Homo sapiens: one gene and its partners. The protein of the gene in region 2 interacts with the protein of the main gene of each other region in a pairwise test. Each region holds a gene or a part of one and is shown on either strand. Other genes may lie near its edges.

What was found.
Region 1: the proteins of CYB5R3 (region 2) and FUNDC2 interact in binary tests that used the Homo sapiens proteins (3 or more experiments, as listed by UniProt).
Region 3: the proteins of CYB5R3 (region 2) and NINJ1 interact in binary tests that used the Homo sapiens proteins (3 or more experiments, as listed by UniProt).
Region 4: the proteins of CYB5R3 (region 2) and CSGALNACT2 interact in binary tests that used the Homo sapiens proteins (3 or more experiments, as listed by UniProt).

Annotation. Positions count from the first base shown.
Region 1 is NC_000023.11:155,022,125-155,029,852, forward strand, and holds the start of FUNDC2 (FUN14 domain-containing protein 2), read left to right. Parts: upstream 1-4,719; 5' UTR 4,720-4,814; coding exon 4,815-4,947; intron 4,948-7,728. Other genes in the region: F8 (coagulation factor VIII isoform a preproprotein), read right to left, coding at 286-428. UniProt on the Homo sapiens protein: Binds directly and specifically 1,2-Diacyl-sn-glycero-3-phospho-(1'-myo-inositol-3',4',5'-bisphosphate) (PIP3) leading to the recruitment of PIP3 to mitochondria and may play a role in the regulation of the platelet activation via AKT/GSK3B/cGMP signaling pathways.
Region 2 is NC_000022.11:42,625,378-42,632,394, forward strand, and holds part of CYB5R3 (NADH-cytochrome b5 reductase 3), read right to left. Parts: intron 6,074-7,017; coding exon 6,001-6,073; intron 5,612-6,000; coding exon 5,505-5,611; intron 2,905-5,504; coding exon 2,775-2,904; intron 2,312-2,774; coding exon 2,228-2,311; intron 2,013-2,227; coding exon 1,927-2,012; intron 1-1,926. UniProt on the Homo sapiens protein: Catalyzes the reduction of two molecules of cytochrome b5 using NADH as the electron donor.
Region 3 is NC_000009.12:93,131,243-93,139,156, forward strand, and holds the start of NINJ1 (ninjurin-1), read right to left. Parts: upstream 3,010-7,914; 5' UTR 2,976-3,009; coding exon 2,901-2,975; intron 2,352-2,900; exon of another isoform or gene 1,770-2,351; intron 300-1,769; exon of another isoform or gene 243-299; intron 1-242.
Region 4 is NC_000010.11:43,133,497-43,141,445, reverse strand, and holds the start of CSGALNACT2 (chondroitin sulfate N-acetylgalactosaminyltransferase 2), read right to left. Parts: upstream 3,002-7,949; 5' UTR 2,879-3,001; intron 2,874-2,878; exon of another isoform or gene 2,200-2,873; intron 1-2,199. UniProt on the Homo sapiens protein: Transfers 1,4-N-acetylgalactosamine (GalNAc) from UDP-GalNAc to the non-reducing end of glucuronic acid (GlcUA). Required for addition of the first GalNAc to the core tetrasaccharide linker and for elongation of chondroitin chains.

The DNA of each region.
Region 1 (7,728 bases), on a different chromosome or scaffold from region 2:
CCTCCCTCTACTCCAGTCTCTAGATTCTGGAGGAGCAGCATATGACGAAGAGAAGCAATGGACAAAACAGAACAAAATATCAACAAATAGGTCAGACCTATGAAAAGAATTGGCAGTTAGCATTTCTGCTAATAACACAGATGTGTGCACACCTTACCCAGAAATGTTTCTTTGGGGCCCAGGTAGCATCACAACCATCCTAACCCGATGTCTGCACCTTCCTCCAAGCAGACTTACATCCCCACAATCCTGGCCCCGATCAGACCCTACAGGACATGCCTTTACCTTGCGTCCACAGGCAGCTCACCGAGATCACTTTGCATATAGTCCCATGACAGTTCCACTGCACCCAGGTAGTATCTTCTGGTGGCACTAAAGCAGAATCGCAAAAGGCACAGAAAGAAGCAGGTGGAGAGCTCTATTTGCATGACTTATTGCTACAAATGTTCAACTGGAGAAGCAAAAGGTTAATTCTTCTCTAAAATATCTTTAGCTCCCAGGAGGGGAAAAAAGTAAAATTTCTGATTTAATGAAAAGTCCCAATTTCTTTGCAGAGCATTTTAAGGAACTTTACCCACTGGATGTGCTCAGCACTAAGCAGTAACCGATAGGATTGCTTCCTTTTTATCAGTGGGAAGCAGCCACAGGAAGAACTGAAGTAGCAAAAGGGAGGCTGCTAAACTTAACCCATTCACTTCTGAGAGCAGTAGGGGCATAAGTCTGCTTTAATCAGAACCTTTAAGGAAAGGAGGAGAGGGATGGAGAAGTCAAAGTGAACAGGAGCTTTAATTTGTGCTCCTATTCCTAGCCTACTCCAACCCTCTTCCTGAGTGGCAGCAGCAAGAGAAGTTCTGGATGTTGTCGAAGATTCTAGAATTCACTTGCACTAGCAAGAGTAACCAGCAACCTGTTAGTCTCTCTGCTTTTGCCCTTGCCCCTCACACTGCTGCCAGTATGAGGAATTTATAGTTTTTAAAACTGTAGTTTTACATATAACATGAGGTTAGGCAACTATTGTTTTAAAAACTATAATTTATAGTTATAATTTAAAACTATAAAGCGAGTCCTGTCACTCCTCTTCTCAGAATCCTCCAATGGCTTCTGACCTCCATCAGGGTAAAACCCTACATCTTTACCATGGCCTAGGTCCTAGAGCATCCCACATGGTCTGCATGCCCTTTCTCCTGACCTCTGTAGTCTCATCTCACTCTGGTTATACTGGTCTCCTTACTCTTCCCTAAAATATCAAGCACACTCATGCCCCTGGACCTCAACACTTGCTATTTCTTTTACCCAAAACACCTTTCCCCCAGATTTCCACGTAGTTCCACTCCCACAACTCCTTCACATTTCAGCTCCAATCTTCCCTGTTGAATGAGGTTTAAATATGGAACACCACATTTATGTTGTAAGCTCTTTACCCCCACCTGCATCACTGATATCCCTCTTGGCTTCATTTTTCTCAATAGCACTCATAACCACCTGGCATTTATTCATTTATTTATTTTGTTTTGTTTTTAACCTAACACTTTTCCAGGCTGTTTACATTTGGCCCAGGTATAGGATATATCTCTTTACATCAGAATGTAGCCATGGTGAGCTCAAACACCCTACTCAGGTTAATGTTTATTAGGGAGAGTGAGGGCCCCTGCAGGGGCCTCAAAGTGTAAGAGATTATGAGAAGAAACTTGATCAGGGTTGCTATAAAAATGTTATCATTGAGCTCAGTTCTGCACAAACAAGAATGTGTTAGGGAGCAATTGGTATATTGTCGACTGGTTTGGAAACAGGCAGCAAGAAGCCCCTTTGATAAACACTCCTCTCTGACAGGTACAAGGATGCAGAGATGACAGCTGACACTATATGCCAGGAACTGTTCTAGGTGCTTTTAAATACAGGTACTATTCTTACCTTCATTTTATGGGTGATGAAACTGAAGCACGGAGAGGTTAGGCAACTTCTCCATGGCCACACAGCTTGTGAGTGGTAGCATTCAAACCCATGTACTCTGGCTCCAGAAGTCATGCTCCTAACCACTATGCTATACTTCTATGCCTCAGAAATGAAGAAATCCCAGTTCCCAACCCCCTGGGAATGACAGTCCAATGGAGGAGACAGAAAAGTAGACAGTTACAGTACAGGGTGATAAATTCACTGCCAGGTGCTACACATAGGCTATCTGATTTAATCCTCATGACAACACCGCAAAGTGGATACAGATAAAGTAACTGAGGTACAGAGAGGTTAAATGGCTTGCCTACAGCCACATAACTACCCATTTGTCCTAGACAGATATTGTCCTAGGCACTGGGTACACATTGATGAAAAATATAAGCAACTGAAAGAGGGATGATAAGCAATAATTACAATACATGAGTACATTATACAGTATGTTAGAAGGTAAAATAAGTGCTGTGCAAAAAAGAGAAGTGGGGTAAGGGGGAGTAAGGGTGGACCAGGTTGCAATTTTAAAGGAGGTTAGTCATGGAAAGTTTCACTAAGGTTGCATTTCAGCAAAGGGACATTGACTTCTACACTGAGGGCAATGGGGAGACACGGCCGGGTTGTGAGTAGAGGAGGGTGGTGATCAGAATTATCTTTTAGGCTGATCTTTCTGATCACTGTAGATAAAACAAACTCTAGCAGGATAAGGGTAGAAGGAGGGTGGCCTGTTAACCGGGGGTGAGAAATGGTGGCGGCTTGGGCTATGATGGTACCACTGGAGAGGGTGAAAAATGGCTGGATTCATTGTGAGGGTAACGTTTGTGGGAACTGCTGATGAATTTTGGATCTGTGGGCTTTGAGAAGGAAAAATTTGGAACACCAAGTTTTTTGGAATAAAGTTGACTAACTGGGATGGGGATGACTGCATGAGTAGCTTAGGGGCGGGGCACACTGTTAAAGGGCTCCTCAGGCACTGCAGGCATAGAAGCTCCTTTCTTTCCCAGTGCTTCTCTTATAGCGATTACAATGTTTTAAAAATGTGTCTTCCAGACAAATACAGTACAATCCAACATGTTTGAGGTTCTACAGTTAACAGATTGTATAATTAATAATCTGGGTGGGAATGTTAATCAGGAATGAAATACAATTTAAAAATTAACAAAGTAATGAGTCAGAGGCTATATTGATAGAAGCACTTTTTAAGGAATAGCATTCCCTGGCCCAAGGGCTTAGTTGATTGAAAATTTTATCTATTATTGCTAAATTTTAAATCAAAATATGGCCGGGCACGGTGGCTCACACCTGTAATCCCAGCACTTTGGGAGGCTGAGGCGGGCAGATCACGAGGTCAGGAGATCTAGACCATCCTAGCTAACAAGATGAAACTCCTCCTCTACTAAAAATACAAAAAATTAGCCGGGCATGGTGGCACGTGCCTGTAGTCCCAGCTACTTGGGAGGCTGAGGCAGGAGAATCGCTTGAACCCGGGAGGTGGAGCTTGCAGTGAGCCGAGATCGCGCCACTGCACTCCAGCCTGGGCAACAAGAGCGAGACTCTGTCTCAAAAATAAAATAAATAAATAAATAAATAAATAATCAAAATAGACCCCATTACCAAATTTTCATGTTTTCAAGGATTCTCTAAAACCTACAATATTATCAATTACATATTCACAAATAATTACTGAATACAATATGGTATGTGGTAAAGTACAAAGGAGTACTGTGGCCATTTGTGATAAATAGAAATCAAATTGGAAATCTTCATAGATAACGTATTTTTTCTTTTTTTTTTGGAGACGCAGTCTCACTCTGTCGCCCAGGCTGGAGTGCAGTGTCGCGATCTCGGCTCACTGCAAGCTCCGCCTCCCGGGTTCACGCCATTCTCCTGCCTCAGCCTCCCGAGTAGCTGGGACTACAGGCGGCCGCCACCATGCCCGGCTAATTTTTTGTATTTTTAGTAGAGACGGGGTTTCACCATGTTAGCCAGGATGGCCTCGATCTCCTGACCGCGTGATCCGCCCGCCTCGGCCTCCGAAACTGCTGAAATTACAGGCGTGAGCCACCGCGCCCGGCCAGATAAGGTATATTTTTATTCCTTTTATTTTTACTCAACTCCTATGGTGCCACAAAATCCTATATTAAGCAGTATAATTGAAAAGAAAAAGAAAACAATAGCACAATGATTATAAAGAAAATAGCCTGAGTTAACTTCATTTGTGTCACTCCTAAAGCAGTGGATCAGATGTCAATGTTTATTATCATTCACTAATTACATTTATGAATAATTTTTAAAAGTAAAGGAAAAGACTGGCTGTTTTAACTAACATAATAGAAACTGTTGCTGGATTTTCTGTTGAAGGTATATTTTGAAGTGAGTTTTATTAAGTATAACTCGCATGTAAAATTCAAAAGAAAAATTAAATACATAAATAAAATGTGTCTTCCTCCACTAAAAGAGTAGGACACATCGCAGAAGCCGATAAATATTTGTTCAATGTTTACATGAACAAACACGGTCACTCAGCCGTCTTTATTTTCAGTGAGTCATAGGTAAAATATTCTTCACCAGGCGAGGATTGAGTCGCAGTCGCGTCAGGAACTCGCCTCCAGGTACTGAGCGAGCGAGCCCCGACGGCCGCGGTGGGTGGAGGGGGGAAAGTGGGGGAGAGTGGGGCGGGAGTAGAGGGAGAGCGAGGGAGGGAGCCTCACCCCCGGGACGCTTTCTGCGCACGCGCATCTCGGTGCATCTGTTGGGCGGGACCGCGGGGCCTGTGACACCGCACGCTGAGCTCTGTGATGTAGCCGCTTGCGGAGACTGCAAGCAGCCGCGGCGCGCCCGGCCCTCCCTCTTCCGCTGCCGCCGTGGGAATGGAAACATCTGCCCCACGTGCCGGAAGCCAAGTGGTGGCGACAACTGCGCGCCACTCCGCGGCCTACCGCGCAGATCCTCTACGTGTGTCCTCGCGAGACAAGCTCACCGAAATGGCCGCGTCCAGTCAAGGTAAGGGCGGGCGCGCGCGCGGCCGGCGCCGCGGGGAGCCGCCTTCCTGGGCTCCGGAAGGGGAAGGGCTCCGCGCCCGCCAGTCGCGACCGAGCTCCCCGGGGAGTCCAAGCGGCGCGGGGACGGGGAGGGCGCTCGGGGATCGCCCCTGGCTCAGCCGCTCCCAGGGTCCGGCCAAGGTCACGCGCGTGTCTGGGGCCTAACCACCCTGGGGTGTCGTCTCCAGTGGAGCTCACCCAGCCTTCCGGCGCCGCCCCCGGCGCAGAAGCCCGAAGACATTCTGTCCCCGTTCTCGGAAGCGGTCTGGCTTCTTTGTCCCTTTGGACGTTCATCTCAAATGCCTCGTGGCGTCATTCTGTGTACAAGGCACCTCCCCAACTGCTTTATTGTTGGTTTTGAAAAACTAGCACATATGGGATGGTACTTAGGAATAGCCTTCTGTTTAGTCGGCATAGTCAAAGATTCCGTGTAATTCGCAGTGGAGCACGTCTTTAAGTTATGCGTCTTACCCTATTTTGAATGTTTAGGTTGTATTTAATTTAGTACTGACTCACGGGATCCCATTGCTAAACAGAGCCATCATTGAAAACTCAATCATATAAACGTAAAATTACGTAAATTATGTTAAAAACAAAGGCAGTGAAAATACTAAAAACTCATCACTTTTATTATTTACCATGTTTTATTGTTACTTTACTTTTGAGGTTATTTATACATCTATTGTATCTTTGTGGAGGAGATACTATACTATGGTGCTCTACTGTGCGTCTCTTCCCATCTCTGGGTTCAGTAGTTTCACAATTCAGTAATGTCATGCTCACGATGAATGAATACGCAATGGAAATTGGCTACACTACAAATCAGCCCTTGCCTAAAGCCGACTGTTAAGCATTTCACCAGCACGCCGCTAAATTTTAGATGACTCTGGGAAGGTGGAATGTGCAATGTGATAATTATGTATTTTCCTGCAGAGCAGACTGCTCTTATAGACTTTTATAAGAGCAGACTGCTCTTATAGACTTTTATAAGAGCAGACTGCTCTTATAGGTTGATCAGGTATTTGCACCTAGGAAATTGTTGTGAGAAATTTTGAGGTTAAGATGAGTTTCAATTGTTATCACAGTGATGATCACATAATAACTGTGATCATTGATTTTGTGGGCTCATAAACGAAGCTATTGGCTGACTTTTGTCTGTCATAGTGCTTAGCAGTGTTTGACCAATGACTGACCAAATATCTCGCATTTAATCTACCTTCCCCCCTACTCCCTTTTTTAGGGACTAGATCTGTCATTCAGGCTACAGCACAGTGGCACAATCATAGCTCACTGCAGCCCCAGTGGAGCCACCTGTTGATCTAAGGGGCTTGGTCAAATTACGTTAAAACTGTAATGTTTTGTTGTTACATTAGAAAAATAAATTATTTAACTACTTGAGAGGCCATGGAGTACCCAGGTACTCAGACATCCATATTTTGTTCTGCTAAATGGGCGTCTGTGATGTATCCTGAATGAATTCTTGAATTATATTTTGTGTATGGTTTAAGGTAGAGGTTGAGAGTAGTTTTTTTTGAAACACAAATATATAGTAGTTCTAACATCATTTGTTGTTTCCTTCATTGAGTTACCTTGGTGCTAAGTTATTAAAAATCAAATGACTATATGTGTGGATCTATTTCTGGATTCTGGATTCTCTTCCATTGCTATATTTGGGTATCCTTGGGTCAGTTTGACAGTGTTGAATGTCATTGCTTTATAAGCCTTGAAATTAAGATAGTTGTATATTATACTGTAGCTTTATAATGAGCCTTGAAATTCCTTGAACCCTCCTCTTTCCCTTGCCCGCCTCCGCCCCCAGGATTATTGTGGCAGTTTGTATTTTCCTGATTGCAGCAATATTTTCCATTCCTTATGGTCTTTTTCCTAGTGACTTTGACACTCCTCCCACCCAGGGGTGGGATCTATATTCCCTCTTCATGAATCTGGATGGGAGTTTGTGACTGACTGCCTGTTCCTACAGAATGCAGTGGAAGTTAACACTGCATTTGCTCTCTCCCTTTCTTGGGACTTTCACCTCCTGAACTCAGCTCCTATGCTGTAAGGAAGCCTAGACTGACTCACATAGAGTAGCAGCCTATCTATCTGTGTGAGTGTAGAGTCTTCAGACCCAGCCTGTAAGTCTTCTGGCTAAAGCCTCAGACATGAAACAAAGACAAACCACAGTGCTGTGGCTGAATTCCTGATCCACAAAATCTGAGAGCATAATATATGATTGTTTTGCTTCATGAAGTTTTGGAGTAATTTGTAGTACAGCCGAAGTAACTGGAACACTGCTGGGTTTTTTTGTATCTTCATATGAATTTTAGAACCAGTTTGTCAATTACATAAAAACCTACTTTTTTGCCGGGCGTGGTGGCTCACTCCTGTAATCCCAGCACTTTGGGAGGCTGAGGCAGGCGGATCACCTGAGGTCGGGAGTTTGAGATCAGCCTGACCAACATGGAGAAACCCTGTCTCTACTAAAAATACAAAAAATTAGCCAGGCGTGGTGGTGCATGCCTGTAATCCCAGCTACTTGGGAGGCTGAGGCAGGAGAATCACTTGAACCTGGGAGGAGGAGGTTGTGGTGAGCCGAGATTGTCATTGCACTCCAGCCTGGGCAAAAAGAGCAAAACTCTATCTCAAAAAAAAAAAAAAAAAGAAAAAAGAAAAAACCTACTTTTTAATTGAGATTGTATTGAATATATAGATCAATATATGGAGAGAATGAACATCTTAAAAA
Region 2 (7,017 bases):
GGCACCTGTAATCGCAGCTACTCAGGTAGCTGAGGCAGGACAATCGCTTGAACCCGGGAGGCGGAGGTTGCAGTGAGCCGAGATTCACGCCATTGCACTCCAGCCTGGGCAATAAGAGTGAAATTCCGTCTCAATTTTTTTAAAAAAAGTTATGTCTTCCTCTCTGAGCTAAAGTGTGTCTCATGCTTTAATCCTCACCACCATCCTTTGAGGTGGCCACCGCCGCGACCCACCTGACAGATGAACAGAGGGATGGAACCTTGGGGGGCTGCTACTCGAGGGTAGGGGGCTCCCAGCTCAAAACCAGGCACTGAGGTCACGGAGGAAGGTAGGAGAGGAAACGAGCAGCAATGACCCGACTGGCACGGTTCTCGGAGTGTAGCATGGGGACCCCTGGGGTTGGGACCCTGGAGAGGATCCCTGAGGCCAAATGGTTTTCATATAATACTGAGACACTGGTATTTTTCACTCTTCCTCTCTCAGTAGATGGGGCCACTTTCCAGAGGCTGCGTGACTGGCAACATCACACAGATGGGATGTAGAAACAAACACAGGAATCTAGCTGTCCTATGAAGCCAGACATTCCAAGGTTTGCAAAAACGTAAAACAGAATGATGTTTTCTAAAATAGTTTTTTAAAAATAAAAATAGGCTGGGTACTGTGGCTCACGCCTGTAATCCCAACACTTTGGGAGGCTGAGGCGGGTGGATCACCTGAGGTCAGGAGTTCGAGACCAGCCTGGCCAACATGGTAAAACCCCATCTCTACTAAAAATATAAAAATTAGCCGGGCATGGTGGCACACATCCTGTAATCCCAGCTACTCGGGAGGCTGAGGCAGGAGAATCACTTGAACCCGGGAGGCGGAGGTTGCAGTGAGCCAGGATTGTGCCATTGCACTCCAGCCTGAGGGACAAGAGCGAGACTTTGTATCAAAATAAATAAATAAATAAAACCCTGGTTTGCATCCTGGTTTCAGCACTTCCCACGAGACATGCACAGTCAAGCCCCTCCCGGAGCCTGTGTTCGGAGGTATGAGATGAGGCGACCACACTGCCCTCGCTACCAGCTGCAAAGATGGCCTGTACAGGTGACAGACGGTCTGACGGCCTCCACAGACTCTGAACCAGCACCACCAAGTCTCACTGCTGCCCTCTCTCCCTCCACACCAGCCAGCTTAGAATTTCTGGCTCTTTCTCCCCTGGGCCTGGCAAGGCCATCTTGGTTGGCCTTGCGGCAGTTTTCTGCAGCTGCGGGGAGGCAGGGTGGGGCAAGGACCCACATCCAAGGACCTCAGGCAAGCATCTTCTCCCCCAAATCTACGTCATCAGTCACAAAACACTAACCTGAAAAGACCTTGCAACAACCCAGTTTCATCAGCTCATTCTACAGATGAGGGAGTGAAGCTCAGAGAGGGAAAGTAGCTCGTCCAAGACCACACAGCAGGCCAGGGCGGGCAGGCAGGCAGTGGGCTCGTGGACAAGGATATGAATCAGGAGCCAGAGACACCAACATTCAAATCCTGCCCTGACACCCTGTAGCTCAGGGGCTTCGTGCAAATGTCTGGTCATTTGTAAGATGGGCCCCTCCATGTCCAGGCCAGCATTCTTCCCACTCTACCAGTGGGTTCCACACCGTGCTCATGGTGAAGGGAGTTCTGAGTTTTGGAGGAAGCAGCCAGGGGAGGGGGTGCTCAGGGAGCTCCCCGCAAGGCAGCCCCCTCAGCCAGACACAGGCGCTGCACCACAAAGCCTGCCCGCCGTGCTGCTGCCAAGGCCGCCAGTGCACAGAACATTCAGGGCCCCCCATCCCGGTCATCCCCAGAATCTCAGCAGAGCTGTGCAGACCCCTGGAACAGCACCTGACCAGGCCCGAAGTCCCCTCTCAGGGTAAGCTGAGTTTCCCCATCATGGGGATGCCCACTGACCTGGTTGGCAAAGAGCAGGTGGCACACAGTGTGGTCATCAGGGTCCTTCATGATGGCGCGGATCACCTGCAGCATCGGGGTGATGCCTGCAAAATAGCCGGCCGGGCCTCGCACGTGCTGAGCGAGGCCTGTTCACAGGCACCGCCCCGCCCAGGTGTACTGGGGTGGAGGGGCCAGGACCACTGGGCCTGGGCCCCTGACCTCTGGTAGCTCCCAGGCACTCAGAACCTGCGCCTCACCCACACCCCAACCCCACCCTTAACATGAGCCGCCGGACGCCTCAGTGGGGGGTTCCGTGTACCTGTCCCTCCCGCGATCATGCCCACAGACTTCACTGTCCTGATGATAGGGTTGGACTTTTTGTCAGGTCGGATGGCGAACTTCCCTGGGGAGAGAGAAGGGGTGAGGCCCGGCCATCAAACATGCCATGTGTGGTGGCTGGAGAGGCTGGAGAGGGGGCTGGAGAACCTGCCCCCACTGTGAGGTCCGAGGTAGAGGCAGCTGCCATTCTAACGCGAGCCATGAGGAAGGTGCAGGAGCAGTGGAGAGGCTGGGAACCCGGAGGCTCAGCTCTGTCCTCTTGCTTGCTTGTTTCAGATGCTGAGAAAGCCAAATAGAGGCTGGCAGTGGGTGAGACGTGGCCCCCAGGAGTGGCCTGTCTGCAACCCCTGTGCCAGCAACTTACCCCCTCTACAGCCAGGGAGACTCAGTTCCCAGAGAGGGACAGCTGGCCTGACGAGAGTCACCCATCCACACAGAGCCAGGGGCCTGCACCCTGCACCCAGCACGCCCAAGCTCTCCAATTCTCTGAGCCTGCCGTGTAACCAAGGGATTCCGACCCGAATCACCTTTGCCCTGGTAGACCAGCAGCCCACTGGGGCCCCGGAACTCAATGGTGTCTCCAATCTGCATGCTCTCCAGGTACTGAGACATCTTCCCTCCAGCGGGAAACTTGGGATGGGTGTCCTTGAAGTAAACCTGCAAGACACCCCCGCAGCCCTCAGTCCCCAGCTCCAGGTCTCAGGGGCGAGCTCTTGCCCACAGTGGGAGACAAGTGCCTCTTCTGCAGCTTCTTCTGAGGCCCACACATGGCCTTCTCCCGTGGAGCCCCATCCACCCAGCCGTCAAATCCTACCTGTCCTGCACCCCGTCCTTCACCCCGTCCTCCCAGGAGTCAGCCTCCACCTGACATATCCGGGGAAAGCAAACCACCAGCCTCGTGTACAAGGCCGACCAACTCCAGGGCTGGATGCACTCACATTTCACCAACTGTCTCTGGGGCCCCCTCCCAACGGGAGACACTGAACCCGTCAGCAAAGTCAAGGCTCTGGGAGGCCCACTAAGCCACACTCCTCCTGGTGGACACTCAGTCCCTTCCGTTTTGTGCTGTCGCTAAAAACCTCCCTCACTCTTGGGACTACTTCCTGCCCTGCACTCTCTAGGATTACTGTCTTGGGAAAGAGAAGGGCCTCAATCCGACACCTACAAAGAAATGGGGAGACAGAGGAGGAGCGGCTCACCCTGCCCAAGGAGTCTGATGGATGGAGAAGGGGAAGGTGGCTGGGGGAGGGACAGCGTGTACACAGTGCCTCAGGGAGGGGAGCCTGTTGTGGCTTCAGCACAGAGGGTGGCTATGGGGTGTGGAGGCAGAGGGGAGTGGAGGGCCACGGACAGGCAGGCAGAGCACACTGTCCTGGGCCCTGGGTGCCAGGCCAGGACTCTAACCTTTATCAAGGACCAAGGGAGCCAGCCAGGTCTCCAAGCCAGGAGAGGCCTGGTCACCTGTGAGTTTTTCATCCTCAATTTGAATCCTCCTAATAGCTTCTCCACATTTGGCCAGAGAGACTTCAACGTGAACAGATGCTTGAGCCCTCATCACCTCCTCTGTGCTTCTGGACAAAGCCCCAAACCTTACTGGGGCCTCCAAGGCCCCGTCTGGCCCCACTGACCTCTCCCACCCCTTGCCCCAACCCTCCAGCCACTTCAATCCTTGAGCCTGCTGCTGACTTCAGGGCCTTTGCACCTGAAGCTCCTTTTCTTCCTTCTTCACCTGGTCAGTGCCTACTCAGCCCCAGATCTCACCTTCACTGTCACCTGCTAGGGAGCCACTCTCACCAGCCAACCCCACCCATCCCTGGTGGCCCTTCTGGAAGCTCGGTCGCAGGTACCTGTCCCCTGCAGGGAGCACTGGCTTCCCCATGACTATGTGTCCAGTGTCCGTCCTCCAGCCAAAGACGGGCTCCTGAGGCCAGGCCTGGGCGCCCCAGCAAGGAAGGAGCCCGGGCCAGGGCCCTTCCCACCCTTCAGATCCAGTGCCTGCCCCCAGACCTGGCAAGGTAAGGGCCTCAGCTACGGCCCAGTAAGGGGGCTCCAGGGGTACCTGAGGGTGCTGGGCTGGGGAGGCTATAGGGCTTTGGCCTTGATTGGGGAGGGTCTCCAACACCCCACATACCCACTGGTCTAGGCTGCTTCTCACCCTCTGTTCTGCAGGAAAGCTTGTATTTCTTTTTTTTTGACTGGCTCTCATTCTATTGCCCAGGCTGGAGTACAGTAGCATGATCTTGGCTTACTGCAACCTCTGCCTCCCAGCTTCAAGTGATTCTCCTGCCTCAGCCTCCCAAGTAGCTGGGATTACAGGTGCGCACCACCATGCCCAGCTAATTTTTTTGTATTTTTAGTAGAGACGGGGTTTCTCCATGTCGGCCAGGCTGGTCTCTAACTCCTGACCTCAGGTGATCCACCCGCCTTGGCCTCCCAAAGTGGCTTACAGGTGTGAGCCACTGTGCCTGGCTGAAAGCTTGTATTTCTAATTTTCATAAAAACGTCCCTGCTGGGGCCGTCATGCTGCCTCTTACTTCCCACTCGGCATGTGTGTTTCAGGTTCCGGGCTGCTGCCCCTAACGCCTGCATCTTCTCCTGTGAACCTCCACCTCGAACCCCGCAGCAGACCCCAGAAAGCCCATCACCCCAGCTCCCAGACAACACCACACGAGCCCCTCACATGTTTCCCTAGCAGGCCTGAGGGACATTTCTTAGGGAAACGGGTAAGAACAGGGCCTGCGTGTCACAGAGGCCCGGCCGCTGACCACGGTGGAGTGGCTGCCTCACCCCGCACACTCGGGACCCAACTCCCAGGGATCTCCCAGCGTGAGAGCAGGGACGGGACTGCGCCGTCACACCTCGCAGCAGGGGCGTCTGTACCGCCAGCCGGCCTTCCTGGAGCCTCTGCTGCAGGTACCTGTCCTTGTTTGAAGGCACTTGCCCTGAACCCTGGCCCCTGTTCTCTGCCAAGACCCCCTTCTTTGGCTTTTGTTGGTAAAGATGACGTGCTATTTACTCAGAAACCAGGCACAAGGGAGCACTGGGTCTTTGGAGTCCGGGCTGCGGGGGGACATGGACTCGAGAGGGGCTCTAGAAGCCACTGCCCCTGCAAGCCCCTGAGGAAGTGGGGCAGCCATGACCGAGGCTGGGCTGCACAGGGCAGGAGCGGGAGACTTCCCTGTCCAGGGGGTCCACATGGGCTGTTGCCATGGCCACCCACCCACACCCCCTCCACAGTCATGACCCAGAGGCTTCACCTTGATGACCAGGTCCACGAAGCCCTTGTCATCATCGCTGGAGATGGGTGTATAGGGCCGGACGACCAGGTTTCCATCAATTCGAGCCGAGAGGTAGATGTGCTGGCCTGCAGGACAGAACGGGGTCACTCTGGGCCAGAGATCATCCTGCGGGTGACCCCTGGGTCTTGTCAACCCACTCCCCTGCACCCCACCCGGCATTCAAAGCCTGGCCTGGCGTCAGCTCCCACGGCCCCCTCCCACCCCTCCCGGGGATTCCCCTCACGTCCCAGCTTCCTGCCTCCATGCCTTCACTCCTGCTGGTGCCACTGCCAGGGACTCTGGGCCTTCCCACTCTCATTCCAACAGACTCGCCCTCAAAGGCCCAGGGCAGCTGTCACCTCCTCCTGAAGGCTTCCCTGCTCTCCCTGGTGGAAATGTAAAGCTTCCATCTCTCTGATCTAGTGCCCCAGCAGCCTGCCGGGCTCCGAATGGGCCCAGCAGGGGCGTGACTCACCGACAGGGAGGCCCAGGATGTGCTGGGGTGACGGCAGGGCAAAGCGGAAGCGCCGGGTGTCATGGCTGATGATCTGGAGAGAGGCCCAAAGCTGCTGAACGGTCCCCAGGGCAGAGGCCTCCCAGGGCGGCTCCCAGGCCTCGGAGCCCCCATCCCATTCCTCCTTTGTGTCCCCACCCTTCCCCAGTGCCTGCTTGTCCTTGTAAGACGTGACGCCGACGCCAAGCACAGATGCACACACATGCACGCTGCGTGTGAGGTGCTGAGGCCAGGCGCACGCTGGGTGTGTCTGTCCTGCTGGCCTAGAGGGGCCACAAACAAGGTGGCCAGAACAGGGAATGAACCCAGGGTCCCAAAGGGAGGATGCCAGACAGGACGGGGAGGGAGGAATCCATCTCTGCCATCAGCTCAAGCAGTGGCCTGAAGGGGCAGGAAGAACTTGAGGGCTGGATGGGCAAACTGGGGCAGAGCTAGACAAGGCTGCACGTGCCCAGGCCTGCATCCCAAGAGAGGGGCTGCAGAAGCCACTGCACCTGAGAGCCCCTTGGGAAATGGGGCAGCCAGGACTGAGGTGGGCTTCACAGGGCAGAAAGTGGGAGCCTTCCCTGCCCAGGAACTCCAAGAGCCCAAAGCCAGGCTTCCACCCTGCACAGGGTGGGCACCCAGGGCATGGTCAGTGGCTGGGACAGTGGCAGAGGAGGAGGGGGGCTGGCTAAGAGCCAGATTGGGCCAGGGAAGGAGCTGAGACTAAAACCCCTGAGGTCTTGTTAAGTGGGTCTTACGCTCAGGCCAGGGACGATCACATAATCAGTTCCAGTCGGAGCTGGAACCAAACCCAGCGTCCTGAGGGTGCACTCCCTGTGGGGTCCCCAGTACCCAGCATGGCCAGGAGAGGGAGTGTGAAGAAGCCATGCGGAAGGTCGGCGCTGCAGAGGCGCTTACATCCAAACGTGGCAAAGTCCACATGTGGATGGTGTCATCACTTAGAGGGGGACAACAGACCTCTCCAACAGGGCA
Region 3 (7,914 bases), on a different chromosome or scaffold from region 2:
GAAGTGCTGGAAGGCGGGGTTCCCACCACAGCTGGGCCAGGCAGACCCACTTCCCGCGGACTCAGCACTGGCCACGAGTGGCCCTGAGACCATGTTAGGGTTGCCTTTTAGAACTTGGCCCAGACCCTGCCGGCCTCAGGATCTGCCAGGAAAGCGGAAATGAGGAAACGAGCAAACCTCCTCCTGGGCAGCTGAGGCCATGCACGGCCCAGACGGCAGGTATACAGGGCACAGCTACCTACCTCCAAGGACCATGCCTCTCGGCCCAGATGTGGCCCCAGGAACCTTCAACCTGCGGGCTGTGAGGGGCAGGAAGGTGTGGCTGGCACCAGATGGCCGTGTCCTAACCCCATCCCCACCACCTCCCTGCCTTGAGACACCCTGGGGATAACAGATTCAGGCCATTTTCACATTAACATTGTTGTTTACTATTCCTTCTGCTGACAGCCACAAGTGAGCTGACTCAATCCCTGGACACTGATGGGGGCCCTCACATGAAGGGCCACAGGGGCGCAGGGCACACGGGGTAGGGGAGACCTGAGAGCTTCCCACGGCCGTGGCCCAACAGAGCCCACCCAGGTTGGAGTTCCACGTGTGGCTCCTCCCTGAGCCTTGTCCACCCTGGGAGGTGAGCAGTTGTGCCCCATTTTACAGAAAAGGAAACTGAGACTCTCCATTTTACAGAAAAGGAAACTGAGGGAGCTGGGCAAAGCGCTGCCCTCTCCAAACCACTGCCAGGGGTCACCAGTGGGAGAGGGTCTCCGTGGCAGGCAGAAGGATGAGGGCGCTGAGTGCTGGCCTGGCTCTAAGCACTTCATATACATCAGCTACTGAGTCCTCACCACTCTCTATGGCAGGCACCGCGACCACACCCATTTCACAGATGAGAAACTGAGGCACAGAGTGCTGACATGATGTGCCCAAGAAACGGAGAAGCAAGGTCTTGAGGTTGGGAAGAGGAACAGGTGTGTTGGGTGGTCCTGGGCCCCCAGGCTGGGTGAGCAGAGCGGCCCTCGAAGTTTTCTACCCCTCAAGGGGAAATGTGCTCATCCTCACACTGGCTCATAGCCTTTCCACAGCTCCCTGGACACCAGACCGTGATCAGGCCTGCAAGGCCCCTCCCATCGGCCTGGCTTCCCATCCCCCCACCTCCTACCTGGCCCTCATGTGCTCTGTGGTCCAGCCTCTGAGCCTTTGCTCCCACTGTTCCCTCTGCCTAGATGCCCTTCCACACATCTCAGAGAGCCAGATCTGCTCACCCACCTTCCCTGCCCTCCAGGGCTCAGAGCCAATGTCCCCACCTCCACAGAAAGCCTTCCCTGACCACCATGCCCCGCCCCCCACGATGGGCTCCCAGCCCCCAGGGAACCCCCTGCTTTGCCCTGGCCTCTCCTGCCCTGTCTGGGCTGGGCTGCTCTCCAACCGCGGCTTGGTGGGGCGGGGCTGTGTCTCTCTCCCTCTGGTGCCCAGAGCCAAGACAGTGATCCGGGAACAAATCCAACCCAATCTCCTCTGGGCTTGAGATGCACCCATCTCAGGAGGCACAGCCTATCCTGCCGCCCGCAGAAGTGAGCAGAGACTGCTCTGAGTGGAGGGCATTGCCCGGGCAAGGTCAGGGTTGGGGGAGGAGCAGTATCCCTTCCTTTCCAAGGCGCTTCCAAGCCACTGACCTGTTTATTACCTGACTTGCTTTCCCCACTTCCCTGAAGGCAGGAGAGACCCTTTGTTCTCTCTTTATAAGACCATGTCTAAAAGGCCCAGCGAGGTGTGGCAACTTCCCAAGGACACACAGCCGGAGGAGCCCCCTGCCTATTGCTCCAAAGTGCTCACACACTGGGGCAGGGCCAGGTCGCTGGGGTCCCGCACACCGGTCAAGTCCTGCAGTGCGACAGCTCCTCTCTAACCTAGGAACAAGTGTCCATGCAGCCCCAGGGCCATCCTATCCCGTGGCTCATGGGGCCCCGCCTCCCCGAACATGTCCTGTCCCCACAGCACCGGCCTAGGACTGTTCACCAGCGAGTGGGCAGAGTGTCTTTGCCCCAGTCTGGTCCACGCCATGGAGAGGCCTGGAAAAACCCAACAGGCTGCTGTTCCCTGCCCCCATCCCTGAGGGGGTTAGAAAAGGAAAGAATGTTCAAAGTAAACAAGTCACCAGAGGGCCATGCCAGGACCTTGCAACAAACACAAGGTGCTCAGTAAGTGCTGAGTCCTGGGATGAAGAATTCTGAAGCGGGACCACTACCAGGGCCTGCCCCCTGCCCACAGCCCTCCCAGGCCGGGCAGGGCAAGTTCTGGAGGGCCGGTGGCGGCATACACTGAAGGCTGTGTGACGTTTCTATTTCTCAAGGCAGGTGAGTGGAATAGGGACCACAGCGGGCCCCAAGTTCCCCCATCAAGGCACGCATCAGATTGTGTGGTCAGCGTGGGGTGACGTAACTGTCTGCATGCAGCTGGTCTGGAGCCCGGAGGCTGTGACTCCCCTCCGCCCGCCTCCGGGCAAAGTGCGCGGAGGAGCCGGCACGGCGAGGCTGAAGTTAGAGAGGCCCGCGCGAGAGTGGGGGGGAGGTCGGGAAAGCCGGGCGCCGGCAGTCCTTAGCCCGAGGAGCTGCGCCGAGGCCCCCTCCGCCGTGCAGCCAAGCGCGGGCGCTGCTTAGTGGGGCTGGGGACGCCAGCCCGCCCTGCGCCCCCACGCCCCCTCGTCCCGCCCACTTGCCGGGGGTGGCTGGAGCTCCCGGGGGCATCGTTCTGACCCTGATGGGGCGGGAAGGACTTGGCCTAGAGCGGGACGTCCCCCAACACTCTGCAGTGCGGACGCGGCGCACACAGGTGCCCGGGGAGCCGCGGCGCCCCGAAAGGACAGGGCCTGGCAAGATCATGCAGCGGTGGGGGGAAGGTCTTACCGAGGCGTCCGGGGAGCCGGGTGTGCCCGGAGGCAGGCCGCCGTTGAGCTCGTACTCCTCGGTTCCCGAGTCCATGGTGCGGCCGCCCAGGCCGCCAGGATCCGGGCCTGAGCGCGCCCGAGCCTCAGCCGCAGGCTCCAGCTGCGCGCCCGCCCCCGGCCCGCCCCCGGCCCGCCCGGCGGCGAGCTGCTGCCCCAGACTCCGCCTCCACCCGGGGCGGGCCCGGGGCCTGGAGGCTGTACGCTGAGAGCGCGCAGTTTGGGGCGACCCCAACCCCTCGGGCCTGAGACGGTCCCGCGGGGCCCCACAAGGGAGGGGGCGCGACGCCGATGGCCCCAGAGGACCCTGCGCTGCGTCTTGCTCTGAACCTCCGTCGCGGACACTTTTAATCCACAAAATGAGGCCAAGAACGACCTTTCCCTGGCCACCAGGCAAACTGCATGAAAGCGAGCGGGCGTTGCCGCTGGCGCCCACGCTGGGTTTTTCCCAGGCGGGGTTCGCCCTGGGAACCGCAGATCGCTCCAGCACAGCGCCTGCTGCGCCCCTAGTAACAGCGTCAGAGAGTCCGGGGTTCCCCTGATTGCGGGCCACGCTGACACAGGGCTTCCCACTCCCTGACCTTAGGTTTTCCTGCCTGGGAAATGGGGGTTATGAGGGCACAGACTGCTGGAGGGGCTGGGGGAGGCACAAAGGGGATGAACGTGCGCTGACTCATGGGCCCATCTGTGCCACCTGTGGCAGGGGGTGGGCTGGGGGCAGCACAGTGCCCAGAGCCCTGGCCAGATGCTAGGCGGGCCCCCACCTGTTGTATGATTGAAGTGGTTGTTTGGTCTCTGTTTCTCCATATGTTCATTCCTCAGCACTTTGCCCATCTGGGGGCCTGGGGGTCGAGAGCATGTGGCGGCCACCCTGGGAGGCCAGGGGAGTTCATCCTGACCACAGCATAGTCAGCTTGCGGCAGTATGGCCACTCTATTTCCAGAAGGGCAGTGGAAGGAAGGCCAGCTCAGACCCCAGGCTCTGTCCAGTCAGGCTGCCACCGGGACAGGAGGTAGGAGTGAGTGGGCATGGGCAGGGCAGCAGGATTGCGCTTGCCCTGATCCTCCAAACGGGGTCATCCCATGAAGGAGGAGCTGTCGTGGGCCCACTTCACAGCAGAGAAACTGAGGCTCAGGCTGTCACTGCCCCAGCTCTGCCTCAGAGGGGATCTGCAGGACAGGGTCTGGCACGGTGGCCCACGACGGGGATGGTTGCTGTTGTCCTCGCATAATCAGGGCACTGTTGGCACACCTGAGTGTTCACCAGCAGCTGGAAATCCAGCACCATTCACACAAAAAACTCTCTCACAGTATGGGACAAATCCCTATTCTGGGGGATAGTGCCTGCCCACGAGGGCTCAATTCCTGGAGGGGCAGGAGGTGTGGGACCACAGAGAAAATACGTCACACCCAGAAAGGGCCCTGGGAGCTGCAGGGGAGCCCTGAGACCTTGGAAGGCCAAGGGCGTGTAGAGAGGCCCCGAAGTAGGAGGGCTTGGCAGGTGGAGACCCCGTCCTGAGAGTATTCTTTCCTTTGTGCCATGTGGGAGCTCCTGCAGTGTGGTTCATCATTCCCATCCTTTTTTTTTTTTTTTTTTGAGATGGAGTCTTGCTCTGTCGCCCATGCTAGAGTGTAGTGGTGCGATCTTGGCTCACTGCAAGCTCCACCTCCCGGGTTCACACCGTTCTCCTGCCTCAGCCTCCTGAGTAGCTGGGACTACAGGTGTGCGCCACCACGCCCGGCTAATTTTTGTATTTTTGGTAGAGACAGAATTTCACCATGTTGGCCAGATCACCTCCTGACCTCAGGTGATCTGCCCGCCTCAGCCTCCTAAAGTGCTAGGATTACAGGCATGAGCCACTGCGCCTGGCCCCATTCCCACCTTCTAAGAGGAAGCCGGGAGGGTCGCAGCACCAGTGACAGTTGGGACATCAGCCTCGGGGTTTGTAAACCTGCTCTGTGCTGGCCGTCTGAGACCCTCTCCCAGCCTCAGTTTCCTCAGCTCCTGGGGCTGCTGGCAGGACGTGTGGGTGTCAGGGCTCAGGCAGGCTGCAGCGCTGGAGTTCCCTCGTCTGCTCCGTCATCCTCATTTGAGTATGTAGTGTCTGTTTTCCCCACTGTGCTCAATGCTGTTTACCCAACTGTTCTCTGCTGGATCCAACCCAGGACAAGTCTTAAAGGCACAGTGTACCCCGTGTCACCTCCATCTACCTTTTTTTTTTCTTTTTTTTGAGATGGAGTCTCGTTCTATTGCTCAGGCTGGAGTGCAGTGGCGCGATTTTGGCTCACTGCAAGCTCCGCCTCCCAGGTTCAAGCGATTCTCCTGCCTCAGGCTCTCGAGTAGCTGGGACTACAGGCGCCCGCCACCACGCCTGGCTAATTTTTTGTATTTTTAGTAGAGACGGGGTTTCACCATGTTAGCCAGGATGGTCTCGATCTCCTGACCTTGTGATCTGCCTACCTCAGCCTCCCAAAGTGAAAGGATTACAGGCGTGAGCCACTGCACCGGGCCCAACCACCTACTTTCAAGTTCTCCTGGAGACCATGAGTGCATGAGCTGTCCAAGACCAGTTTCTAGACGCTGACCCTGAGCTGAGGGACATGTCCCCAGGAGAGACACAGAGGAGGGGTGTGGCTGGGAGGAACGGGCTGGCAGATGCCCCAGCAGAGCAGCCCTATGTGTGGGTGGGTGTGCACACACAAACACTGTATATGTACGAGGGCCCCAGGCCTCTGTGGAGGAGCCCACAGGGTATCTCAGGATGCCTCTCTGGTGCCCAGGGAGGCTTGGTGCATCCCTCTCCCCCATCAAAGACTCTAGTGGATTCTTCTGGGGCTGGCGTTGTGTTGAGTTCAGATCTGCCCCTTCTGGCTTGGGATGTGCTTCCTCATATGTAAAGTGGGTATAAGGCAAGATGGCATGTGAGGACCATGGAGGTGTCACCCCAGCGTGCTCCTCACAGTGCCACCTCAAGCAGGTGGCTCCATCCCGCTGACCAAGAATGAGACCCCAGTGGGGCAGAGAACAGGCACACCGGAGGCTTGGACCTTCTACTCACCCACTGTCCTAGGAGCTGGGACTAAGCACGGTCTAAGCGACCCCCACCGCGTACTATGGGGAGTACAGTTGTGTCTCTCAGACCTGGGGGAACATGCGGTGAAAGCACCAAGCTGTTGAAAGGTCCATGGGTCAGATGGACCATGTTTTCACCTACAGAAAGCCTTCAGAAGCAGCCAGTCCCTGGCCTCCTCCACCTCGGAGAGGCTTGCAGGCAGGTATGCCGTTTCCACATCACCAAGGGAGAAAGCGAGTCTGGCAAGGTGGCGCAGCATGCCCGAGGTGACCCAGCTCTGCATGCCCACCTGCCCGCCTGCACATGCTCTTGCTAACATGAGCGGGAGGAGGACGGGGCTGGCAGTCGGCCCAGGGCAATGGCAACTCCCTGGAAGCCTGTGGTATTGCCAGCACCAGGCGTGGCCCATCCATTCCCCACCCACCTGAAGGAGCTGTTACCTGGCATCAGGGTGGGCCCAGGAGTCTGCATTTCTATCAGGCGGTCCCCAGGGACCACAGCTCTCACTGGGTCAGTGTACAGAGCAGGGAGGTAAGGGAGGCGGGTGTGTAGCGTGGCCACCCCATTTCCAGAAGGACAGAGGAAGGAAGCCCAGGCCTGTGAGGAGGTGCCATGCCATCATCCCCACACTAAAGATGGGATGGCAGAGGCTCAGAGAGCCGAGGGACTTGCCAAGGTCACCAGGCAGGGCTCAGTGGGAGGGGAGGCACAGCCAGGTCAAGGATGATAAGGGGCGAGGTGATGGGAGATGAGCACCACGCAGGTATGAGAGCCTCTCATGCTGTCCACCACAGAGAAGCAATGTGTCCAGGCTGCACAGCGAGGCACAGCTGGCCCTAGAAGGCCACAGAACAACAGAAACAAAGTGGACGTCCACCACAAGGGAGTGGCTAAGTGGATTATGGCCATCTGCATTCGGGAGTGGGATGCCATCGTCTACAGAGCAAGCGAGGCCAGGCCAGCGGATGTGGAGGGGTCCAGCTGCACTGCGGGCAGAGAACAGGCAGGAGCAGGAGGCTGGCCCCTGCTTCCTCTGCTGCACCCTGACACACTGCTCTGTTCCTTCCTGTTTGTGCATCCGTCTCTCCCACTGGGGCTCCCAGGGGCCAGGCTGGGGCTGATGCCACTTTGCATTTATGGACATCTGTGCCTAGCAAAGCTCTTGTCCCCAGCTGCCACAGCAAAGTGGCAGAGAGAGTAGTCATCCCCCACTATCTGTTCTCTTCTTCCTGCTCAGTCACAGGCTGCTGACTTTGAGCTGCACCAGTGGCTTCCCAGAATCAGAGCTGCATTTCTCTCTCCCCTGCAGCTAGAGGTACCCTTATGGCTACATTCTGGCAATGAAAATGTTGTGTGCAACATCAGGGAAGGAACCCTAAACAGAAGGGGTGTGCCATTCTTTATTACTTCCTCTATCTTGCTGGCTGGAAAGTGGATGTAATGGCTGGAGCTCCAACAGCCGTATTGGACCGTGAGGAGACCTTGGCCATGGGAGCCTCAAATAGTGGAGCTGAAGACAGAAGCAACCTGCATCCACAATGCCTGCAGCACAGGCCTCCCTGGGCTGCCCACCTCCAGACTTCTTAGGTGTGAGTAAGGAAAAACAAACAAACAAACAAAAAAACAACTATCCTGTTCAGAGGCTGCTATAATTTAGTTTTTTACTTTTTTTTTTTTTTTTGAGACAGAGTCTCACTCTGTCGCCCAGGCTGGAGTGCAGTGGCGTGATCTCGGCTCACTGCAAGCTCCGCCTCCTGGGTTCACGCCATTCTCCTGCCTCAGCCTCCCAAGTAGCTGGGACTACAGGTGCCCACCACCTCGCCCAGCTAATTTTTTGTATTTTTAGTAGAGACGGGGTTTCACCATGTTAGCCAGGATGGTCTTGATCTTCTGACCTTGTGAT
Region 4 (7,949 bases), on a different chromosome or scaffold from region 2:
CAGGAGATCAAGACTATCCTGGCTAACATGGTGAAACCCGTCTCTACTAAAAATACAAAAATTAGCCGGGCATGGTGGCGGGCGCCTGTAGTCCCAGCTACTCGGGAGGCTGAGGCAGGAGAATGGCGTGAACCTGGGAGGTGGAGCTCGCAGTAAGCCGAGATGGCGCCACTGCACTCCAGCCTGGGCAACAGAGCCAGACTCCGTCTCAAAAAAAAAAAAAATTATTTGTAGAGACAGGGTCTCATTATGTTGCCTAGGCTGCTCTCAAACTCCTGGAATCCAGAGATCCTCCTGCCTCGGCCTTCCAAAGTGTTGGAATTACAGGCATGAGCCACCACACCTGGCCCTTTCCTACTTTCCATGTTTAAATATTCAAGAATCAATTGCTTTTTTTCATGGCAGCCTGTATGTGTTCAGTAGGCATAATACCTTAACAAATTTGAAGATACTAATACTTACTTTAAAGCTTTCTTTTGTCTTACATTAGCTCCACTGCTTCAGTGCCTAGTTCTGTATTTGTTTGGTCTGAAGCTTCTCTTAGATGCTACCGATTTCCCACAAATGTTTAGTGATTTTTGTTGTGTGTTCACATTATAAATGTGCTAGTAGTATCTCAGTCCATATGAAAATCACTGTACTCCTGCTGTGAATTCACATTTGTAACTAGCCCTATAATTCAATTTTACACTTATACCTAGTGCTTGTGTAGCATGACAATAACAATGTAAGTTCTTTGACTTGCAGTCCCGTGATTCTTCAATCCACTTTCAGTCATATCCTTTTGGTATTTCATTTCCTCTAAAAAACCACTAACTTGAGTAATACAGTTCTTAAGTAAATGTTATGCTAAACTTCAGAGTCAGATCCTCACCAGCTCTAACAGACTTGTCTAACAGTTAAACAAACAATGACAGTCCGACAGAAGACAGTCATAAATGTGCAATTCAAAGGGTAAATAATAACATGGTAATGAATGAATCACTTACGTCTTGAACTCATAATAGTTATGCTTTTTTAAAACCAACCTTGAATGTTATATTAGTTAAAATAACAAATTCTATTACATTAAAAAAAAGATGACTCCATGTTGGTTAAATTTTCTGCCTTTGGTTGGTAATGGTATGGTTGGTAATGACTCCATGTTGGTAATTTTCTGCTTATGCCATGACTCAGTCATTCTATAGCTGACAGAAATGCATACAGATGCTCACCAAGACATTTAATTTACAAGAATGTCCACAGTACTCTTTTTTTTTTCTTTTCTTTTTGAGACCGAGTCAGGCTCTGTCGTCCAGGCTGGAGTGCAGTGGCACGATCTCGGCTCACTGCAACCTCCACCTCCCGCCTCAGCCTCCCAAGTAGCTGGGCTTACAGGCGCCCGCCACCACGCCTGGCTAATTTTTGTATTTTTAGTAGAGATGCGGTTTCACCATGTTTGCCAGGCTGGTCTCGAACTCCTGACCAAGTGATCCACCTGCCTCGGCCTCCCCAAGCGCTGGGATAAAAGGCCTGAGCCACCACGCCAGGCCCACAGTATTCTTAATATCCAAAACACATCATATACAAAAATTGGGAACATAAATGTCCATCAACTGAAGAGTAGTCACATATTATTCAATAGACTATTACACAGTAATAATACAATACCATGAAATAGCATGGGTGTGTCCCACAAACAATATGCTGAGAATACTACGTGATTCCATTAACATGAAGCTCAAAACAGAGAAAACTAAAAGCAGATAAGAGAAGTTAGAATACAGATGGGAAAACAAGGATATAACTGACTTGGAAGAAGCACAGGAAAATAGGATGATGGAAATGTTCTATGGTTATAATTTGATATATCTGGTGGTTCCACAGGGTAATAAGTATGTAAAAATTCATTGAGCTGTACAATTAAGATTCGTGCTCTTATTGATTTCATATGTATTTTATGCCTCGACAAAAACAAAGAGAAAAATGCAGCTTCTAAACTGGTTGGAACTGTGTTTATTTAGGCCAAAATCCTCTGAGCCACAAATACTGGAAATCCATCTTTTTTCATTCTTTTAGTTACATGACAACTTTAAACAAATGGTACAAGAACAATAATACAAAATGAACGCTAACACTCAGTCCTAAAATACTTGGCTTCTTACTTCCAAGATCGAAGCTACTATTTTAATACAACATTCAAAAAACAACATTAATTACCAGACATGAAGGCCCTGCTCCCGCGAGCCTTGAATGACGGTGAAACGTCACGACATCCCATATCTATCTCAAAAGCACGCTAGAAAATACCTCCAAGTTTAACAAGCCAAGGACTCAGGAAGAGAAGCTTCAGATGTATAATCAAACTATCATACCGCCAATACCATCATCACAAACAGAAGTATCACTGTCGTGCTTCCTGCGTTGCTCAAGGGTAGAGTCATTTTTAAGGTGCATTCTCCGACAACGCCAGAGGCTCCCCATCTCCTCCGCCCCACTGAGCCCTCCACGACAGAGCATCTTTACCGGCGCTCGCTCTGCCATCTACAGATAAAGAGGGGCTGAGGGCAGAACTATTTTAACGCGATGACGAGGTCACCACTGATTAAAAAGTTTATCCACTGAGAGGAGCAGAGATGGTGATGAATAGGTAAAAACAAAACGAAACAAAACAAAACCCAACACTGACAAGCGAACCAATCGTCTCTGGCCGCGCTTTCCCTAAAACCGGTGCCGACTCCGGCAGGCTCATCCCTGAGAGACAGGGCCCCCCGCAGGACCGGTCCGCTAGGCGACCCCACCCGACCACACAGGAGCCCGCAGCCCCGGCGCCCGCACCGCCCGGGCCGGAGCCGGCGGGAGTCGCGGACCGGCGGGCGAGGCCGGGCCAGGTACTCACCGCGCTCGCCCGCTCTGCGCTCCACCGCCTCCTGCGCCGCGGGGACACCCGGGCGGCGCCTCACGCCTTGGGCCCGCCGCCGCCTCAGCCACCCACCCCCGGGCGCGCCGCCGCGCCTGAGAGGCCACTTCCGGCGCGCGCGAGGAAATGAAGCCGCCGCGCGCCCGCGGCCCCGCCCAGGAAGCTCCGCCACTGGCAGCTGGGTACCGATTCATCACCGACGTGTTTAAAGTATCCGTGTGTGTGCCTCCAAAAACCGTTTGTGGAGACAGCAGAGTGCCCGAGGCAGGAAACCGCTCCGGCCTGGAGGCGCCCCTGCCCGGACTCGTGGACTGCAGCGCTGTCCCGCTCGGAAGCCGATCCTGGGAGTCCGAGCGGGGCCGCGGGGCCTGCGTGGCAGCCGAGTCGAGGGCTTCGGGCCGCGGGGCTGTGGAGCGCCCCTTGGCGCTGGGCCGCCGGCAGCCGTGAGCGCATCACTGCATTTCCCTGGAGGAATTCCTCATCTGTTGAATGAGGGAGTTGAGGCGGACACGCTGGGAAATGGCTTCGAGCTCACACACTGATTTTCGTGAGTGGAAAGAGAAGCCCTTTCTTAGGCGTCTTCCATACCACTGCATGTTCCAGGGTCCTCCCTGGGCTCTCTGTCTCCCACGCCACCGCGAGCACGGCCTAAGCGGGCGAGCGAAGGCGCGACGGCGCCGAGAGCCGGCTGTGGTGGGTGCCGGGCGCGTCACCGCGGGCTGGCGGGGGAGGGGACGCTGGGAAGCTCTCCAGAAAGAGGAGCCGCCACCGAGCAAATTCCCATCTGCCACGCACCGCAGAGCCTCGCCCTCCGCCGCCAGCATTTTCTTTCTTTGTTCTCCTAGCCCTACAAACGCTGGGTTTCCTTTCTCATTCGTGGACTTTTTTCCCTGGATCCTTCTTACTGCTCCTACCCTGTGGCCGCACGTCTGGCAGATGCGCGGCGGGCGCTGCCTGAACCCCCGAATCCTCACAAGCCTCTGTGCAGCGGCCACGGCCCTCAGCTAGCGGCGGGGAGACTGAAGCCGCAGGGTCAGGGTTAGTTGCCACATGTTTTAAATTCCTATCCAAACTTCCATTATAATTGTTTTTATTTATTTATTCATCTATTTTTTGAGACAGGGTCCCGCTCTGTCGCCCAGGCTGGAGTGCAGTGGAGCGATCACGGTTCACTGCAGCCTCCCCACCTCCGACTCCAGCGATCCTCTCGCCTCAGCCTCCCGAGTAGCTGGGACCACAGGTGCATGCCACCATGCCCGGCTAATTGTTAATATTTTTTTTGGTAGAGATGGGGCCTCCCTCTGTTGCCTAGGCTGGCCTTGAACTCCTGGGCTCAAGCGATCTTCCAGCTTCGGCCTCCCAAAGTGCTGGCATTACAGGCGTGAGTCACCCCGCCTGGCAAGAATTGTTGTTTTGAAACTAACTGAGGTTCTCCCATCAATGGATTTAAATTGTTACTTTTTAATGATTTTTTTTTAAGTAGCCAAATACTAAATGTATGTAATTTGAATGTGGAGAGAAGATAATGCATGATTCAAATTATGTGGCTGATCATGGGTGATACACTGGGATATAGTTGTAAAATAAGTAGTTCTCCTAGGGAAAATATTAAAGTACAACTGTGTTGGGTTTAATATCAGAAAAATGTAATTAAAAACATTTCCTGCCAATAATTTCCAATCTGATACTTAAACAAAACAAAACAATAAAAGTTTCCCATCTCTTTCGGGCCTTTTAAATTTCTACCAAAAGTAAGTGATGCTGGCTGATTCCCCTGCTATAGCAAGTTGTGAATAAATAGCCTTTGCTGGTTTCCACAGTTTTCCTGGTGATCCCATGGTAAGTCTGTACTGCTTGTCCCTGAGGTCCCCAGGCTTCCACCCATTGTGCCACCCAGAGGCCCCTCATGCCTCCATGTTCTCGGCCTATCAGGTGCGCCGATGTGGTCAGCACTAGGGCTCACCTCACTCTGCGTGGAGGTCTCTGGCTATTTATTCTCAGTTTGGTACTCTGGTTTTGTTATTGATTCTCATTTGTCTGGCATCTCTAGTGGAATCAGGCCATTCTTTTTATCCCTTTTCACTGTATTTTGTGTTAGTGTTTAGTGTTGTGCTGTCAAAAAGTGCTGCTTGTCATAAGAAGGAAAACCGTAGGAAAGGACACAGGCATGGGGCTCATAAGCCTCTTGTTTGAGCCAGCCTCGCAGCTCATGATTTAGCAGTTCTCATCACACCGGCCTCTACTTGGAGAAACTTTGCTGTGGGTTTCCAGTAAAACTGAATGAGGTTCTCCTTCCGTCTCGCTTTCATGTCCTGAGAGACACAAACATTCCATTTCTCGCCAGCCTCACCAGCCAGCATTCATGGTGTTGTCTAAGTTTAAATCTCCTCCTCCAGAAAAAACTCCTGCTTCTTACATATACTCTCTAACAATTCTAATCCTTACGCCCATCTCTGAAAAGCATTAACTTCACCAAGGTTGATTTGGTGAAGATCTTATTTGGAGAACATCTAACTTGAACAAAATTGCTCATTTGAGAGATGCCTTAGAAACGAAAGAGAATAAGATTTCTTAGGCCCAATGAGCAGCCTTTTTTGATTGGTAGTCAGAGGTCTCCAAATGATATTCTGATTCAAAAAGTGCTTCCCTGAAAGACTCTGGCTAAAGCTGATGAGCGATTTGGCAAACTTAAGCAGCAACAACCTAGACTCATTTTCCTAGTAAATCCTTCTGCTTATCATCCATTTGCTTCCCTAATACAGCTCTCCCTCTTCTCCCCCTTATCCTTCTGATCTCTTCCCTTCCACACATCTGTCCACACTTCTCTTCCTCTTGTCCAGATCCCTGCCCTTTCACAACAACCCTCCTATGACCCCAGGATGCCAGCTGCCTCTCTGAAGGCCTATTCCTCCATGAGCCCCATATACAGACAACTGTGGAATTTAAACCTTAGACCCAAGCTAAATTAATAACCATAATTAAGGATTTCCCCAAACCCAGGCAAGATCAGCAACTATGCATAAAATAATTAAGAATACTTTGGTCAGGCACTATGGCTCACACCTGTAATCCCATCATTTTGGAAGGTGAATCAGTGAGGACTGCCTGAGCCTACAAGTTAGACCAGCATGAGCAACATAGTGAGATCTCCATCTCTATGGAAAAAAAAACCCAGGCATGGTGGTGTGTGCCTGTAGTCCTAGCTACTCAAGAGGCTAGATGGGAGGATCACTTGCGCCCAGGAGGTTGAGGCTGCAGTGAGCCATGATTGCACCACGGGCACTCTAGCCTTGGTGGCAGAGCAAGACCCTATCGCAAAGCGGCGGGGGGAAGCATGTGACCCAGTGTTACCTAACCCATATCAACTTGTACACATTGACCAGAACCTTGCATGCTAAATCCTGAATGGCAAAAGTTGACTAGACTCCCCCAAAAGGGATCCTAGGATCCCACTGTCCACAATAAAACTGAAGAGTTAACAAAGAGGCTCAAAACATAGGGCAAAGTCTTCTAAAAGCCATATCTCAAACATTCCCCCCACCAAAAAGATTAGACCATAATCCCTTGTCATGCAAAAACAAACAAACAAACAAAAGGACCTGCAGGAGTTTTTTTTGGGATAGGCTAGAAAATACATTGTATCATTTGGGAGTCTAGAAAGTGGCCCTTTCATTGCTTGTTGTCAAGGAGCTAAATCTGAAATCGGAGACCTAATCAAAAACAGAAATGAGAATGGGAAATAGCCCCTTAACCTGAACTACAACACCTGGCAGACATTTTAAAAGTGCTTTAGAACAAAAATAAGACAGGACCTAAAATTAACTTGTGGCCCTGCTGATCAAACAGCTGGGTAGCCCCTCCCCAACCAGTCAGCTACTGACAAGGGCACTTATAGATACTGTATACAGAAAGGACACTGAGAAAAAAAGATTGTTCAACTTAGAAAACAAAAATCAAGACAAAAAGAAAAATCCCTCACTTGAGATCAATGAGGTGCACTGGGGAAAGGAAAAGCACCAATATCCTGCAATACCTTTAAACACCTGCCATGCATTAACCATACATAGAAATGGTGCGTTGGTTTTCCTAGGGTTGCTGTAACGATTTACCACAAACCGGTTGGTGTAAAACTGCAAAAACCGTAACATCACCCTTGGTTATTCAGCACTCTAACTGGGGAGTTACTGACTCATTGTTTATGCAAACAATCAGAGCAATGTTCTCATCTGTGGGAATCCTGTTGTCATAAACTTATCATTAACCCTGGCAGAAGTCATTAGCAATGCCCCTTCTTCCCTAGATGGGGCACCTATCAGTCTCAACTCATTGGCATGAGTAGTGATGGACAGTCTCATTGCTGTAGATTTCTTGTTGGTTGGTGATGGCCTCTGCCACTGCTAATACTGCATCTGGATCAGTGAAACAAGAGAAGGTAGAACAGGTCACACATCACCTTGAGGCAAAAGCTATTTGGCTTTCTAAGGTTGATCCTCATGGCCTATATGGGATTTGCTCTTGGCCTGCATTGGTCAGCTGAGGTTTGCGTTCAAAGCGTCTCACAGGGACAGTTGCTCTTGTTTCTGTCATAGTGGTCCTGATGTTGTTCCACTGCATCCCATTCTTGTCAAATGAGCACTGTGATGCTATAACAACAGAAGGATCAAGATCTCACAATACGGTTGACCAGAGAGACAACTGAATAATCTCTGAGCAGTGAAGAGCTGGATCTCTAGACTTCCTTGAGTTGGCCAACCTTTTACAAACAAGAAAATGACCGACAAGGGGGACTAAGAGACTGAACATGCAAACAGACAATGGCCAGACCACATACGGCCAGAGGATTTGAATCAGATTCTCTGCAGAACTAGCCAGGAAGCCAAACCACAGCCTCTGTAACAATTATCCCAGAATGGTTAGGACTTGGTCAGGAACTGCAAGCTTCCCTATTTTTTGCCCACTGAACTAAACAGAGAAAGCCACCTGTGTCCCCCAAACCAATCACATAAGAGGCCCTCCTCCTGGTTAGCTGCCTCCAGCTTCCCCAGGCCAA